Linked DNA regions of Homo sapiens: region 2 is linked to region 1. Evidence: fine-mapped expression QTL. Tissue or cell type: whole blood. Region 1 holds a variant in brackets; the other region holds the start of a gene. All regions are shown on one strand. Distances are between the middles of the regions.

The links. PIP is the estimated chance that this variant, and not a neighbour inherited with it, causes the effect.
Region 2: CAMSAP3 starts here. The variant in region 1 is fine-mapped to the expression of CAMSAP3 in whole blood (GTEx, PIP 0.99).

Annotation. Positions count from the first base shown.
Region 1 is chr19:7,639,564-7,647,563 of GRCh38, reverse strand. It overlaps STXBP2 (syntaxin binding protein 2), which reads right to left. Exons shown (of 19, transcript NM_006949.4): 4 at 7,757-7,833; 5 at 6,755-6,833; 6 at 6,561-6,664; 7 at 5,711-5,859; 8 at 5,446-5,530; 9 at 5,231-5,361; 10 at 5,028-5,135; 11 at 4,741-4,798; 12 at 4,516-4,581; 13 at 4,319-4,399; 14 at 2,812-2,950; 15 at 2,258-2,367; 16 at 1,220-1,315; 17 at 317-402; 1 more. Among named protein-coding and RNA genes, the nearest start is that of STXBP2, 6.5 kb to the right of the region's middle. RefSeq lists a silencer at 3,451-3,500. The variant G/A (reference allele first, on the strand shown) is at 4,392.
Region 2 is chr19:7,592,051-7,600,183 of GRCh38, reverse strand. It overlaps CAMSAP3 (calmodulin regulated spectrin associated protein family member 3), which reads right to left and starts at 4,321. Exons shown (of 17, transcript NM_020902.2): 1 at 4,034-4,321. The coding sequence starts at 4,181. RefSeq lists an enhancer at 2,737-3,342 and silencers at 4,182-4,621, 6,685-6,885.

The DNA of each region.
Region 1 (8,000 bases):
GGCCCCGGGAACCCAAGCCCCAGACCCCAGGGTCCCAGTCCTGGTGACTTACCAATGAGCACCTCCCACTTGCCCTCGGTGGCCCTGGTCACCTCGTAGGCGGCCCTCATCTCTGACATGGCCACACCGCCCATGACATACACGATGAGCCGGGGGCCCGCCCGGGCTTCTATGCCAGCCTTGTTCTTGTGCCAGTGACCGAAGCGGGCACTGTGCAGGGCAGGGGCAGAAAGTCCAGGCAGGAGGCCCTCACCGCCGCCAGGCCGCCCACCTAACACAGACCCAGGCGTGGGCGGGGGCGGCCCCGGGGCCTCACCTGACAGCGGCCTGGGAGCTGGCCGTGGGGGCGGGGTCGGATACGAAGGGCCACAGGTTCCTGTCCAGCCGGTCCTCCACGGCGTCCTGGCGGCCGAGAGGCAGGTTAGGGGAGGAACCCCAGGCATGGGGTCCGGGGTCAGGAGTGCCCCCCACGGGGTATTCAGGGGCCAAGATCCTGGCAGACAGGAACCAGCATCTCCACCTCCTGCCTCTGGGGGACCCAGGAGTCTAGGCCTCTAGTCCATTGGGGACCTAGAAATCTAGATCCATAACTCACTGGGGACCCACGAATCTAATTCCATAACTCCTTGGGTACCCAGAAGTCTAAACCCACAGTTCCTCGGCAACCCAGTAGTCTGGGCCTCCAGGCCCTTGGGGACCATCAGTCAATACCCCCAGCCCTTTGGGGAACCCAGTGTCTGGGCTCTCAGCCCCTCAGAGCCCCAGAAGTCCAGGTATTCAAGGTCCATGGGGATGAGGAGGCCCAGGTCTCTGGCCCCCACGCAGAAAGAGGGGCCGGGGCTCTTAGAGGGACAAGGAGGAAGCCAGGAAGCCGCCCCAGGCCCATTGCCATTGGATGGTGCTGCCCTGGGATCCTGGGAAGGCCAGGGCTGGGGCTCAGGGGCACTCCTGCGGGACAGGGGAACAGACTAGAGAGATATAGCGGAGGCAGCCGGCAGGTGGGGAGGAAGTGAGGCTCCCCAGCACAGGCCCCGCTGTCACCCCAATTCCTCAGCTGCGGGCTTGGCGTGCCCCCCTCAGCAGAGCAGATCGGTGCCAAGGGAATGCCAGCAATGAGCATTTTCCCCTAAGCCCTGAGGCTTAGCACCTCAGCAGGAGGGAGGCTGAGCCGCCAGCCGATGCGGAGGGCTGGCCCCCACCCTGACCTGCCACCCAGTACCTCCATTACATCCTTGATGACCGGGGTCCAGCGGGACAGCTGATAGGTGGGCTCCATGCGTTCTCTCGGCTCCAGCCGGCTGGAGGTCCCCGAGCCCTACAGGCAGGGCAGGGAGGGCAGCAGGGGGATTGAGGGGAAGGAGGCTGGTCACAGAGGGGCTGCGCCTGGTGTGGCTGGTAGGGTGGGGGATGGCAGGCAAAGATGGGGAAGTGGAACAGAGAGCGAGAGAGAGCGAGAGACAGCAAGAAAGCGAGAGAGAGAAACAGTGAGCCAGAGAGAGACGGAGAGAGAAAGCCAAAGGGAGAGAGAGCGAGCCAGAGAAAGACAAAGACAGAGGCAGAGATAGGCAAAGAGATAAGAAGCAGTGAGACAAAGTATGAAGGCAAAGAGAGAGACAAGAGATGAAGCAGGAAACAGAGAGAGGAAGATGGGGACAGAAGGGGGACGGAGAGGGGAGGGGAGCAAGACAGAGAACAGAGAGAAAGGGGAAGGCAGAGAGAAGGGTGAGAGAGAGAGATATGGAGAAACAGTGCACAGCGAGATGGATGAGGGATGGGGGAGAGATGGGGACGGGGTGAGGGCACCCTGGAGGGGGACGCACAGGGCCAGAGAGAGACAGGAGAGGCTGACCCAAGAGTCAAGCACACACATGGCTGTGTGTGGGTGCTGGATGGGTGCGGGGGACCCTCAGAGACCCCTGGGAGCCCAGATAGACAATGTGGTGTAGCCCCCATGCTGGGGACCCTACTCCCTGCCTCTAGCACTCAGACCACCCGCTCCCAACTGCACCACTGCCAGGACCAGCCTGGCAGCGACCATGTCTCACTTCCCCTGCCTATTGTGTAAGCTGGGACTGGGAGAGGCCCCAGTGTCCTCTGGGCCCCAGACCAGACCCGAAACACTGCTTTTGGCCTCCCAGCAACCACACCACGCCAGGAACCACACCGTGCCTGTGCACCAATGGCCCTCTGCCTTGCAGAGCCCCGGCTGTGATCCGCACCCTCTCCCAGGGTCCCCCCATGCCCGCTCCTGGCGTACCCCGGGGTTGGTGACAGTGCCTCCCAGCTGCTCCAGGTTACGGATGAGGCTGCTGTGCGCCTGTACATTGGCATGCTGGATCAGCTTGGCCAGGTTCTCCTCACTCACACCTGGGGGACGGGAATGGGCAGGGTGGAGGCGGCGGCCAGGTGAGCTCCCAGGTTTAGGGGAGTTTGGGGTGGGCTGAGGAGCTCCCAGGACTCTGATGAGAGAACCTTGCAGTGGGGAGGGCCTCAGTACCCTGTGCTAGTGTGAGCAAGAGTGGGAAACCTGGAGGGGGTAGATCAGGGGCTCCTCCAGATGAGCTGAGGGAGCCCCACATCTATAGGAATCACAGATGTGAGGGTTTCTACGTTAGCAGGGAGCCCTCACCTCAGTGGAGGAATCCCCAAGCCAATGGAGGAGGGTTCCCGGGTCCAGAGGGGTAGCTGTGGGGGTTGGTGAGCCCGGTGAGTGCAAATGACCCAAGGAGAGCTGTGGGGTTCAGCAGTTCCCAGGATCGTGGGAGACGCTGGCAAATGGGGACGTTCCAACTCCCTGCAGCCCCCACCCACCATTCCGAAGGAGGATGTAGAGCAGCAGGACCCGGATCTTGTCGTAGGCGGGCACCGCCGCGTCCAGCAGCACCGGAACGATCAGCTTCATGGAGTCCTTGATCTTCTCCCCCTCTGCGTCGGAGCCCATGGCCAGGTCCTGCGGGCATGGGGTCAGCCGTCCACCGGCCGCTATGTGTCAGGGAAGGGGATGGGAGAGGCGGGCCAAGGACATCCCCAGGATCCTCGGCAAGAGGACATTTGGGTCCTACCTCATCTCAGCACCAGGTCTCTCAAGGTCCCACCCCTGTCCAGGGACAGTCTCTCCACAGGCCCTGCTCCTCACCCAGGTCCCACCTTTCCAGTGCCCCACCCACCTACACACAGGTCACACCACTATCCTGAGACTACCTCTCCAAGGCTCCACCCCTCACCCAGGTCCCAGCTCTCCAAGGCTCCACCCCTCACCCAGGTCCCAGCTCTCCGAGGCTCCACCCCTCACCCAGGTCCCACCTCTCCGAGGTTCCACCCCTCACCCAGGTCCCACCTCTCCGAGGTTCCACACCTCACCCAGGTCCCACCTCTCCGAGGCTCCACCCCTCACCCAGGTCCCACCTCTCCAAGGCTCCACCCCTCACCCAAGTCCCACCTCTCCAAGGCTCCACCCCTCACCCAGGTCCCAGCTCTCCAAGGCTCCACCCCTCACCCAGGTCCCACCTCTCCAAGGCTCCACCCCTCACCCAGGTCCCACCTCTCCGAGGTTCCACCCCTCACCCAGGTCCCACCTCTCCAAGGCCCCGTGCCTCACCCAGATCCCACCTCTCCATGGCTCTACCTGTCTCCCAGCTCCTACCTCTCCAAGGCCCCACCCCTCACTCAGGTCCCACCTCTCCAAGGCTCCGCCCCTCTCCCAGGTCCCACCTCTCTTAAGGCTCCACCCCTCTCCCAGGTCCCACCCCTCCAAGGTTCCACCCCTCATCCAGGTCCCACCTCTCCAAGGTTCCACCCCTCACCCAGGTCCCACCTCTCCAAGGCTCCGCCCCTCACCCAGGTCCCACCTCTCCAAGGCTCCGCCCCTCTCCCAGGGCCCACCTCTCCAAGGCTCCATTCCTCTCCCAGGTCCCACCTCTCCAAGGCTCTGCCCCTCACCCAGGTCCCACCTCTCCAAGGCTCCATTCCTCTCCCAGGTCGCACCTCTCCAAGGCCCTGCCTACCTCTCCAAGGTCCCACCCACCTATGAATAGGCCACATTCCTGTCCTGGGACCACCTGTCCAAGGCTCTGCCCCTCACCCAAGTCTGACCTCTCCAAGCCCCATCCACCTATGCACAGGCCACACCCTCATCCTAGGACCGTTTCTCCACAAGACCCACTCCTTCCCCACCAGGTCCCACCTCTCTCCAAGGCCCCTCCACCTCTCCACAAGCCCTGCCCCTCCCCCAGAACCCCCCATCTCTACAGTTCAGCCCCTCCCCAATACCCCGCCTTGGCAGGACCATCACCCCTGCCCCCCGCAAGCCCTGCCCCACCTGCTCCACACTACACAGCTTCTCCACCGAGCCCTTGAAGTGCTTCATACAATCATCTGCTAGATGCAGGTGC[G/A]TAGAATACTGCAGGGTGCAGGGTGGGGGTTGGGGGATAACAAAGGCTGAGTCAAGGCAGAACGCAGACAGAGCATGGGGTTGAGGGGCCGAGGTGTCCCCGCTCCCTGCCCACCCGAGCACACCTTATTCAGCTCCTTCTGGTACTGCGGCATCTTTTTCAGGATCTGGGATAGGTCTTTGATGTTCGCCTGGGGAAGTAGGGGGAAGAGGGTAGGGATTGGGGGGCGAAGCCAGGCAGTGCCCACCTGGGTCTCAGTCCAGGCTCGAAATCCAGGCTGTGGCCCTGCGCCCATGGGGAGGGGGGCTTCCTTCCACCAGCGCCTTTGGTGACCTGGGTCCGCCCCTACCTTGTCCGTGGTCAGCCTCTTGCTCTCACAGAAGGTCCTCAGGAGCTCCGTGACCTTCCTGGCCATGAGGGTGGGCGGGGGTGAGAGTGAGGGGAGAGGAGCCACAGGCCATGGGTGAGCCCACTCAGGGGGGACAGGGAGAGGTGGGGTGAAATTGGAGGCCAGTCTGGAGTCACACGAGGGGTGCTCATGAGGGCCAAAGACTTGGCAGCAGCCAGGGATCCCAAGGCCGCTACCAGGCCCACAGTGGGCGGTGGGGGGGGGATCCGGTCCCCGTGTGCACGCACTTGGACACATCTGCGATATGCATGTGGCGAAGCTCCACCCACAAGTCATCGTCCTCGTCCAGCAAGACGGCCTTCTCCCGCGCCTCGCTCAGCCCGGTGGTCTCATACCTGGGGAGGAAGGAGGGAGCCTGGGGGTCAGGGGAGCTGAGGACTGGGGAACCAGGTCAGTGGCAAGGGTGGGGACGGGTTCCAAGTCTGCAGACCTGTATGTGTCCTGCTCTATGTCCAGCAGATCATACGCCATGGCCTGGAACGTGAGCTCATGCAGTAGTGGGGACACGGGGTCAGCTGCCCGGTCCATTATCAGCAGCTGGGAGCGGGTTTTCTCTGGGCCCTGGGGTGGGGTTTAGGGCAGGAATGAGGCACTGACCCTGAGCCGGTTGGGGCTGCCCCTCACCTCCCAAGCACGCCCCCTCACCTCGCCCAGACTGGGAGTGTCTGCCTTGAAGGCGTTCAGCTTGGCCAGGACGGCGTGGGCCAACTGGGCTGTGTCCTCTGGGCCCCTGGCGGGGAGGTCAGACACGGGGGACATCATCAGGGGATGGGGTCAAGGATGGGTTTGAAGGTGAGAGTCAGGGGCCAGGGTAGGGCCGGGGCTGGGGTCACAAGAGAGGTTAAAGGTTAGGTGTTGCACGCGGTTAAGGGGGGGTCGGCATCGGGGTGGGGCTGGGTGGGGTCCCCACTTGCGGTAGCGGATGGCCGGGTACTCCTGCAGGGTGGCGCACAGCGTGGCAATCTGCTGGGCCAGCACCTCGAGCTGCCGCGTGCGCTCCTCTGCCCGGAAGGGGCAGTAGAGGTTGTAGGTGCTGTGGGGAGCATCGAGGGAGAACACCTGGGCGAGGAGGGGACAGAAGCACCAGGGTTGCCGCTGCAGGTGCACACCTGCCCCGCTTCCCGCTGCCGCCACCTGCACCTCCTGGGAGCCGTCCCTGGTCCCTGAAGCCTGCTTTGCCGAATTGGAGGCAGGCCCAGGTCAACCCTAAACCCATGCCTGCAGGAGTCAGTGGATAAATACCCCAGCCCGTGTCCCTTAAGCTGGCTGGACAACCCCGCGGTGCGCTCTACGCTGCCCCCTGCAAGGGCCTAGTGGGATAGAACTCAAGGCAAGAGCTCCTTGGACTCTGTGGGTACCTCCCCTTTTTAAAATTTTACTTTATGTATGTTTTTGAGACAGGATCTCGCTCTGTCGCCCAGGCTGGAGGGCAGCAGTGCAATCATAGCTCACTGCAGCCTCGACCTCCCGGGCTCAAGCGACTCTCCCACCCCAGCCCCATGAGTAGCTAGGACTACAGGTGCACGCCACCACGCCAAGCTAATTTCTTTCTTTTTCTTTTTTTAAGAGACGGGGTCTTGCTCTGTACCCAGGCTGGTCTCAAACTCCTGGCCCCAAGTGATCCTCCTGCCCTGGCCTCCCACAGCGCTGGGATTACAGGTATGAGCCACTGCGCCCAGCCTCAGTGTCTGTTTCTGAGGGAACAGGGGACATTTGGTCACAAACCCCCACCCCCTGCCCAGGATGAGCCCGGGCCGTACCTGGGCCTCGTAGGGGAGGAAGGCAAGGTGAATCTCCTTCAACGTCTTCACCACCTTTGCCAGACGAGAGCGGCCTAGCTCACTGAACAGGGGCTCGGGGCAGGCTGGGGTGAGGCAGGAGTGGGGCATCAGGCCAGAGCAGCCCCCACACCTCCTTGCCCCACCCACCAACACCCTAGGCTCTCCTCACTCACTGTCGGTGAAGAAGATATGGGCCGCTTTGTAGGTGAAAGTCGGGGTCCCCTGGAAGTCTTTGATCAGGGCCTGAACCGACTGGGGAAGGTGGATCACTCTCTGGGCCTGAGCCTGCACACCTAGGCTCATTGGCTGCCTAGGCCTCCCAGCCACCCCCCATCTGCCACCATGTGCAAACATGGACGGACGGGGACATGTATATGTGCAAATGCACACTAGTGTCGCACCCACATGGGCACACGCGCACACACACAGATGCACGCACGCACACACACATACACACGCATGCACACATGCACACACACACAGATGCACACACACATACACACATGCACACACAGAGATGCACACACATACATACACACATGCACACACACAGATGCGCGCGCACACATACATACACACATATACACACATGCAGACACTGATGCGCACACACACGCATACACACATGCACAGACGCATACACACACGCATACACACGCACACACAGATGCACACACATACATAGACACATGCACACAGATGCACATACATATACACGCATACACACATGCACACACAGATACACACAGACGCACACACAGACGCAGACACATACATACACACGCATACACACATGCACACAGACAGACGCACACACACACATACAGATGCACACAGATGCACACACACATACATACACACGCATACACACATGCACAGACACAAATGCACACACAGACCCACAGACACACACGCATACACACATACACACAAATGCACACACAGACGCACACACATGCACATGCACACAGACACATACATAGACACACATGCAAACACGCACACACATGCATACACAGATGCACACACACATGCACACACATGCACACACATACACATGGACACATGCACACGTATACACATGCACACATGCAATCACATGCATGCAGACATACACACACATGCACATGTACACGCATGCACGCGCATACACACACGCTCACTCATGTAGGCACCTTCTCCGTGGGGCTCAGCAAATAAATGGCCTCCAGACTGGGAATGGGTTCCCGCCGTTTGTTGATGTCTTCAACAACTAGTAGGAACAGAGGAAGGGACACAGGTGGGTGGCATCCAGGCAGGGCCACGTGGGGAGTCTCAGGTGTGGGGGGTTGGAGGCTTGGGGAGGAGGGGTGGATGCTTAGGAGGGACTGCAGGAGAAACCCACTTAGGGACCACCAGCTAAGAGCCACACGACAGGGT
Region 2 (8,133 bases), 47 kb after region 1:
GATGGGTGGGTGGGTGGATGGGTGGGAGGGTGGGTGGGTGGATGGGTGGGAGGGTGGGTGGGTGGATGGCTGGGTGGGAGTGTGGGTAGGTGGATGGATGGGTGGGTGGATGGATGGATGGGCGGGTGGATGGATGAGTGGGCGGGTGGATGGATGAGTGGGCGGGTGGATGGATGAGTGGGCGGGTGGATGGATGGGTGGATGGGTGGGTGGGTGGATGAGTGGGTGGGTGGGTAGGTGGATGAGTTGGTGGGTGGGTGGATGGATGGATGGGTGGATGGGTGGGTGGATGGATGGGTGGATAGGTGGATGGGTGGGTGGGAGAGTGTGTGGGTGGGTAGGTGGGTGGGTGGATGGGTGGGTGGGTGGGTGGATGGATGGGCGGGTGGATGGATGGGCGGGTGGATGAGTGGGTGGATGGATGAGTGCGTGGTTGGATGGATGAGTGGGGTGGGTGGATGGATGAGTGTGTGGGTGGATGAGTGCGTGGGTGGATGGATGAGTGGGGTGGGTGGATGGATGAGTGGGGTGGGTGGGTGGGTGGATGGATGAGTGGGGTGGGTGGATGGATGAGTGCGGTGAGTAGGTGGGTGGGTGGATGGATGGATGGATGGATGGATGGATGGATGAATGAATGGGTGGGTGGAAGGATGGATGAGTGGGTGGATGGATGGGTGGATGGATGAGTGCGTGGGTGGATGGATGAGTGGGGTGGGTGGGTGGGTGGGTGGATGGATGAGTGCAGTGGGTAGGTGGGTGGATGGATGGATGGATGAATGAATGGGTGGATGGATGGGTGGATGGATGGATGAGTGGGTGGATGGATGGGTGGATGGATGAGTGCGTGGGTGGATGGATGAGTGGGGTGGGTGGATGGATGAGTGGGGTGGGTGGGTGGATGGATGAGTGCAGTGGGTAGGTGGGTGGGTGGATGGATGGATGAATGAATGGGTGGGTGGATGGATGGATGAGTGGGTAGATGGATGGGTGGATGGATGGATGGAAGGCTGATTGAGACAGGATCTCACTCTGTTGCCCAGGCTGGAGTGCAGTGGCGTGATCATAGCTGACTGTACCCTGGAACTCCTGGGCTCAGGCAATCCTCCTGCCTCAGCCTCCTGAGTAGCTGGGACTACAAGCCCATGCCACCACACCCAACCATTTATTTATACCATGACCTTCCCTGCATCCAGTCATTTAATCCTTACGACACTTATTATTATACCCCTTGTACAGATGAGAAAACCAAGGCCTGGAGAGCTGAGATAACTTGTCCAGGATAAAAATGTCCAACATGAACTTGAGTTTCCCTCACACATCACACATCTGTTCTGAAGGCATAAAGAACTGCATGGGGTGTTTTCCAAATGTGTTTAACATGGAACCCTTTGTTTTTTGAGACAGAGTCTCTCTCTTTCACCCAGGCTGGAGTGCAGTGGTGCAATCTCGGCTCACTGCAACCTCCGCCTCACAGGTTCAACAATTCTCCTGCCTCAGCCTCCCAAGTAGCTGGGACTACAGACGTGTGCCATCATTCCCGGCTAATTTTTGGATTTTTAGTAGAGACGGGGATTCATCGTGTTGGCCAGGCTTGGAACCCTTTCTTATCTAATCTCCAAGCTTGTGTTCTGCTTTTATTTCTGCACAGCCTTCTCACACCTGTGCCTTGGAGTTGCCAGAACTATCCCTTCCTCTGAGCCATCACTACTCCCACGGGGCCACTGCATACCTGATCTTGTCAGTTCCCAACACTGTCCGTGGCTCCCCAGTACCCTTGGATCCATAACCAGGGGCCTGAAGGGCCTTCCTCAGTCTGACCAGCCTCCCTTATCTCCCACCGCCACCCCGGGGACCTGCATCTTATTCTCTGAGAACTCCCTGCTGGTCCACACTCCGAGCCTTTGCCCACTGCCCACACATCTCTTCTCCGTGTCAAACTTCCATGCATCCTTCCAGACTCAAATCTTTCCACCTGTGGGATCTCTTCCCTCCCTGGAAGATTTCAAGAATTTCTTTCCCCAGGCCCCGCTGGCCAGCTTCCCTATGATCTGGTTTCCTGCCCATCCCCCTCTGCCCCATATCCATCCCCTGCCGTCTCCTCTACACCCTGAGCGCCCAGCCCAGCACCTGATAGGTATCATACCGTCAAGAGTCCCCAGAGCTCATGAATCTTGTAGAACTCTGCTCCCATTTCCTTCAGCCCTTCTCCTCTTTTTAGGGGAGTGGAACAGGGAACAGATTGAACTTGACCCTCACGGTAGAGGCAGCCACTGCCGTGTGTCACACAGCAGAGGGAGCTGGGTCAACAAGAACAGAACTGGGTGAGTCAGGGCACTGGGAGCTCACCAACACCCCTCATCAGAAGTTTGCTTTGCTGTCTTCAAAATGGGATAATTTCTACTCTGATTCCTGGCCAGGGGATAATGGATAACGTTAATATTATTCATCAAAATATACCACCGCCAATCACACCAGCAGCGAGCAACCGTTTCGCATGTATCACGCGCCCCGTGCCACGCGAAGAATTCTGTGGTCACTACAGCTTTTACGCCTCCCAGCAACCTTGCAAAGAGGTAACGGGGGGTCTCCATCACTGGAGCAGTGCCCTACACATAGCAAGTGCCCCTGCCCCACAAACATTCGCAAAACAGATAAGTCTGTGAATGAACGCCTTCTTTTATAGAAGGGGAAACAGAAGCTCAGATAATTGGGATAATTCGCATTCTGGTGCAGCTGGACTTCACATTCAATTCTGACACTCCACGTTGAGTTCTCTACAGCCTGGTAACCTTGGAAGTGAGGAGCTGGGGCTGTCCTGGCTGTCCAATGCCCAATCTCTTTCTTCCTCAAGCAAATATCTGCAGGGAGGTAGACCCCAGAGTGGGAAATGCATGCATGGAACGACGCAGACAGAGACTGTCTGGGAGAAAGAGGGACAGGCTGGGGCGGAACCAGGAGACGGACAGCTGTCACTGAGACCCACACCCAGAACAGGTTGATCTGGGAAGGCCAGGGAGAGGGGGGATGGGCTGTGCCAACACCAGTGGGCAGAACCAGTGGGAGAAAAGGATGTACCCCCACAGCTCCCCGCTGGAAAGCCCAGACCTTAATTAACCCCTGTCTTCTCTGGCCAGGCCCTGACTCCTAGCTCTGGCCTGGGGTTGTGAAGCTGCCCAAAGCCGAGACTGAGTGTTTCCAGGGCCTCTAATCCCGGGGACCCGGGATTACGGCATCCTCCCCATTAGGGTGGCTCGGGCTCTCAGGCAAGCGGGCCTGGGGGAGGGAGTGAAGGATCTGCTCTAATGGGAGAAGGCCCCGCAGCCGGGAGGAGCGGGGGGCCCACCCCAGGCGATCTTGTACTACCCATTTCCCTTCAGCTGGGCTCGCCAACCTCCCCAGTAAAATGGGGCCATAAGTCGCAGCTGCCAGGCGCTGGAGGGGGCTATGGAGGCGAAAGGGGGTTCCCAGAGCTCCCCGGTCGCCGCCCGCAGCGCGGCCAGGGCCGACGCGGGGTGTGTGTTGGGGCCTGGGGGTCGTGCGGTGGTGGAGACCGGAGCGCTCGAGACCCCCCAGCGAGGTCGGGGTCTGGGTCTCCAGGGTGTGTGGCGGGGGAAGAGACCGAGAGGAGATCCTCGCAGGGGCGTGATGTGTGTAAAAGAGAAGAAGGCGTGCAAGGGAAGGCCTTGGGGGTGCGGGAGGCGGGAACGAGAGGTCCGCACGGGGAGACCCCACCCGGCCCGCAGACCCCGCCCGGCTCACCTGGAGGCTTGGACGCCGGGGACCCCCGCGCGGAGCTGGGCCGCGGGCCCCACCCCCACCGCGCTCCCGCAGCCGGCGGGGCAAAGTCCACCGCCCGGGCCGAGCAGGAAGCTCGGAGGCCCCGGCGCGGCAGGGGCCCGAGCCCGGGGACCCCCGGCGGCCGGCGCTATTGTTCCCACGGCCCCCTGCCTTCCCGGCCCGGCGCCCCGCCCCCCCCCAGCACCTGCCGCGCCCGGCCCGCCGCCCCCGACCCCGGTCCCCCGAGCCCCGGTACCTGCGCCCCCGAACGCGGCCCGCAGCACCCACGCCAGGCTGGCCGCCGCCTTGGCCCGCGAGAAATCGTACTGGTCCAGCGACTTGATCTCGGGCACTAGAAAGGTCCTCCGCAGCGGCCCGGGCCCGGGGGGCGCCGCCTCCACCATGGCGGCGCCGGGGCTGCGGGCGCCGGGTCCGCGCTCGGACTGGGCTGGGCTGGGCTGCGCCGCGCTCGCGCCCCAGCCGGGCCCGCTGCTGCTACCGCCGCTGCCGCCGCCGCCGCCGCCGCCGCTGCTGAGCCAGGTGCGGCCGCTTGCGCTGGCGACGCTGCGTCGGGCCCGCCCCGGGGAGGAGCCCAGGTGCGCCCCGCCCCCGAACCCGGACCCGGACCCTGGCGCGCCCCTGCGCCCCGCCCGGGCCCCTCACTGCAGTGTGCACGGAGCAGCAGGGGCGGGGCGGAGGGGGGCGGCCTGGACTGCGGCGATGGTGGAGGGAGCTTGCGGAGGACTGAGTGTGTATGTGTGCGCGCGCGCGTGTGTGAGTGTGTGCGCGCGCGCCTAGCTTACTGGAAAGGATTAGGGACCCTCTGTGTGTGCCAGCCCCAGTGTCTACCCTTAGGCGTAGGAGCTCCTGCAAGTGCTTGCAATAAACGCCGGCCCTCAGGCAGAGAGTGGTTGGGTGCACCTGTTTCTGATTATGTTAGTGAAGGCACAAGAATATGAGTGTCTTCGTATCTGTGTATCTCTGAATACATTTGGGTGGTGACCAAGTGTATTGGGGGGTGTCTAGGGGTGTGTGTGTGTGGGGTATGTATCTGGGCACGTGTAAGTGTGTGTTTAATTTGTTGTGTGTACAAGGATATGTATTATATAGATGTCTGTATCCTGAGGATGGATGGAAGTGATGAGTGTGTGTCTGTTTTTTGTTTTTGTTTTTGTTTTTGTTTTTGAGACAGGGTCTCACTCACTCTGTCTCCCAGGCTGGAGTGCAGTGGCGCGATCTCGACTCACTGCAACCTCCGCCTCCCAGGCTCAAGCGATTCTCCTGCCTCAGCCTCCCGAGTAGCTGGGATTACGGGGTTGCGCCACCACTCCCGGCTAATTTTTGTATTTTTAGTAGAGTTGGGGTTTCACCATGTTAGCCAGGCTAGTCTCAAACTCCTGACCTCAGGTGATCACCCGCCTCAGCCTCCCAAAGTGCTGGGATTACAGGCGGCAGCCACCGTGCCCGGCTGTGTGTGTGTTTTTGGAGTGCTGTGAGTATGTCTATCTCTGTGCATCTGAACGTACTGGTGTGTTGTATGAGGCTGTTATTGATGCCTCTGTCAATGCAGGAGTATGGAGAGACATTGAGAGTGTGTGTATTTCAGGCCGAGAGCGGTGGCCACGAGTGTAATCCCAGCACTTTGGGAGGCCAAGGCGGGCAGATCACTTGAGGCCAGGAGTTCAAGAGTAGCCTGGCCAACATAGCAAAACCCCGTCTCTACTAAAAATAAAATTTTTAAAAATTAGCCGGGCATAATGGTGCATGCCTGTAATCCCAAGTACTCGGGAGGCTGAGGCGGGAGAATCGCTTGAACCAGGGAGGCAGAAGCTGAGATAGTGCCACTGCACTCCAGCTTGGCCAACAGAGTGAGACCCTGTCTCAAAAAAAAAAAAAAAGTGTGTATATTTCTGCAAGAGTGTGACTATTTGTGTCTATGAGTGTCCTTGCGTAGCTGTACTGGGTGTATTTGCAAGTGTCTTTGTGTATTATTCTGGTATCTGCAGTGTGTGCTGGGAGAAGGCTCTGTGTGGAGGTGAGGCTGTGTGTCTAAGTGGGTTTGTATTTGAGTATGTGAATCTGGCTATATGCACATGGATGTGTGATTGATTGATTGATTGATTTTTTGAGACGGAGTCTCGCTCTATCGCTCAGGCTGGAGTGCAGTGGTGCGATCTTGGCTCACTGCAAGCTCTGCCTCCTGGGTTCATGCCATTCTCCTGCCTCAGCCTCCCGAGTAGCTGGGACTACAGGCACCCGCCACCACGCCCGGCTGGTTTTTTGTATTTTTTTTTAAGTAGAGACCGGGTTTCACCATGTTAGCCAGGATGGTCTCGATCTCCTGACCTCGTGATCCGCCCAACTCGGCCTCCTGAAGTGCTGGGATTACAGGCTTGAGGCACCGCGCCCAGCAGATGTGTGATTTATGATGAGCAGTTCCTGACTATATTTTTGTGCATATATGTGTGTTTATATGTGAGTATCTTTGTGGATTTGAATATATGGTGGGTGCCTGTGACAGATTGTGTAGGCATGAAAGCAGGTATACCTGTGCAAGAATGCCTGTTTCTGCTGGGTGCAGTGGCTCATGCCTGTAATCCCAGTGCTTTGGGAGGCTGAGGCGGGTGGATCACCTGAGGTCAGGAGTTCAAAACCAGCCTGGCCAACATGGTGAAACCCCATCTCTACTAAAAATACAAAAGTTAGCCGGGCGTGGTTGCCCACACCTATAATTGCAGCTACTTGGGAGGCTGAGGCAGGAGAATCGCTTGAACCCAGGAGGCAGAGGTTGCAGCAAGCTAGGATTGCACCACTGTACTCCAGCATGGGCGACAGAGTGAGACTCCGTCACATTAAAAAAAAAAAAAAGAATGCCTGTGTCTGAATGCTTTTGTGAGAGTTCAAATGTGCATATTTATCTAGGAATTCATATCTGTGTAAGCAAATGTATTTCTGTGTATGAATCTGATTGTGTCTGTAAGTATGGAAGTGTGTGTGAACGCGTTGAGTACAAATATTTGTGTACATGAGTGCAATTGTGTGTTTATTTGTAAGGTCTAAGCACCGATTTGTGGATTTTTGGTTTTTTTTTTTCTGTTTGTTTTTTTTTTTTTTTTTGAGACCGAGTCTCGCTCTGTCACCCAGGCTGGAGTGCAGTGGTGCAATCTTAGCTCACTGCAAGCTCCGCCTCCCGGGTTCGCGCCATTCTCCTGCCTTAGCCTCCCCAGTAGCTGGAACTACAGGCGCCGGCCACCATGCCCAGCTAATATTTTGTATTTTTAGTAGAGACGGGGTTTCATTGTGTTAGTCAGGATGGTCTTGATCTCCTGACCTCAGGTGATCCACCCGCCTCGGCCTCCCAAAGTGCTGGGATTACAGGCATGAGCCACCGCGCCCAGCCGGATGTTTTTAATATTTTAATATTTGCTTTTGTTCTATTGTTTGTTTTGTTGTTGTTGTTTTATTTTTTTTTTGGACAGGATCTCACTCTGTCACCCCAGGCTTGAGTGCAGTGGCACAATCATGGCTCACTGCAGCCACCATCCCTGGCTAATTTTTTGTTTTGTGTAGAGATGGGATCTCCTTATATTGCCCAGGCTGATCTCAAACTCCTAGGCTCAAGGGATCCTCCCACCTCGGCCTCCCAAAGTGCTGGGATTACAGGCATGTGCCACTGTGCTTGGCCCTCCATTGTATTTTTGTCAAAATATCCCCTGCATGCCTCTTAGCTGTATATAATTGTGAATGCACAAGTGTTTGTGTGAGTTCGTTCTTTACAGGCCTGGAAAGAAAAGTGTGTTACTTTCGGCCAGGCACGGTGGCTGAAGCCTGTAATCCCAGCACTTTGGGAGGCCGAGGCAGGTGGATCACTTGAAGTCAGGAGTTCAAGACCAGCCTGACCAACATGGTGAAACCCTGTCTCTACTAAAAATACAAAAATTAGCCAGGCATGGTGGCACATGCCTGTAATCCCAGCTACTTGGGAGGCTGAGGCAGGAGAAGCGCTTGAACCCAGGAGGCAGAGGTTGAAGTGAGCTGAGATCTTGCCACTGCACTCCAGCCTGGGTGACAGAGCCAGACTCTGTCTCAAAAAAAAAAAAAAAAGAAAAGAAAAACGTGTGTTACTTTCAGAACACACACACACACACACACATACATAGGCACCTTGTCACCTTGTGAACAGGAATAAGTGCTCACAGACTCACACAAATATTCACAAATTCACACAAATGTAAATGTCAGCTTCATGCACACAAATGCACTCAGAAAGTGATACGTAAAAAGATAACATACAGGCCGGGCACAGTGGCTCACTCCTGTAATCCCAGCACTTTGGGAGGCTGAGGCAGGTGCATC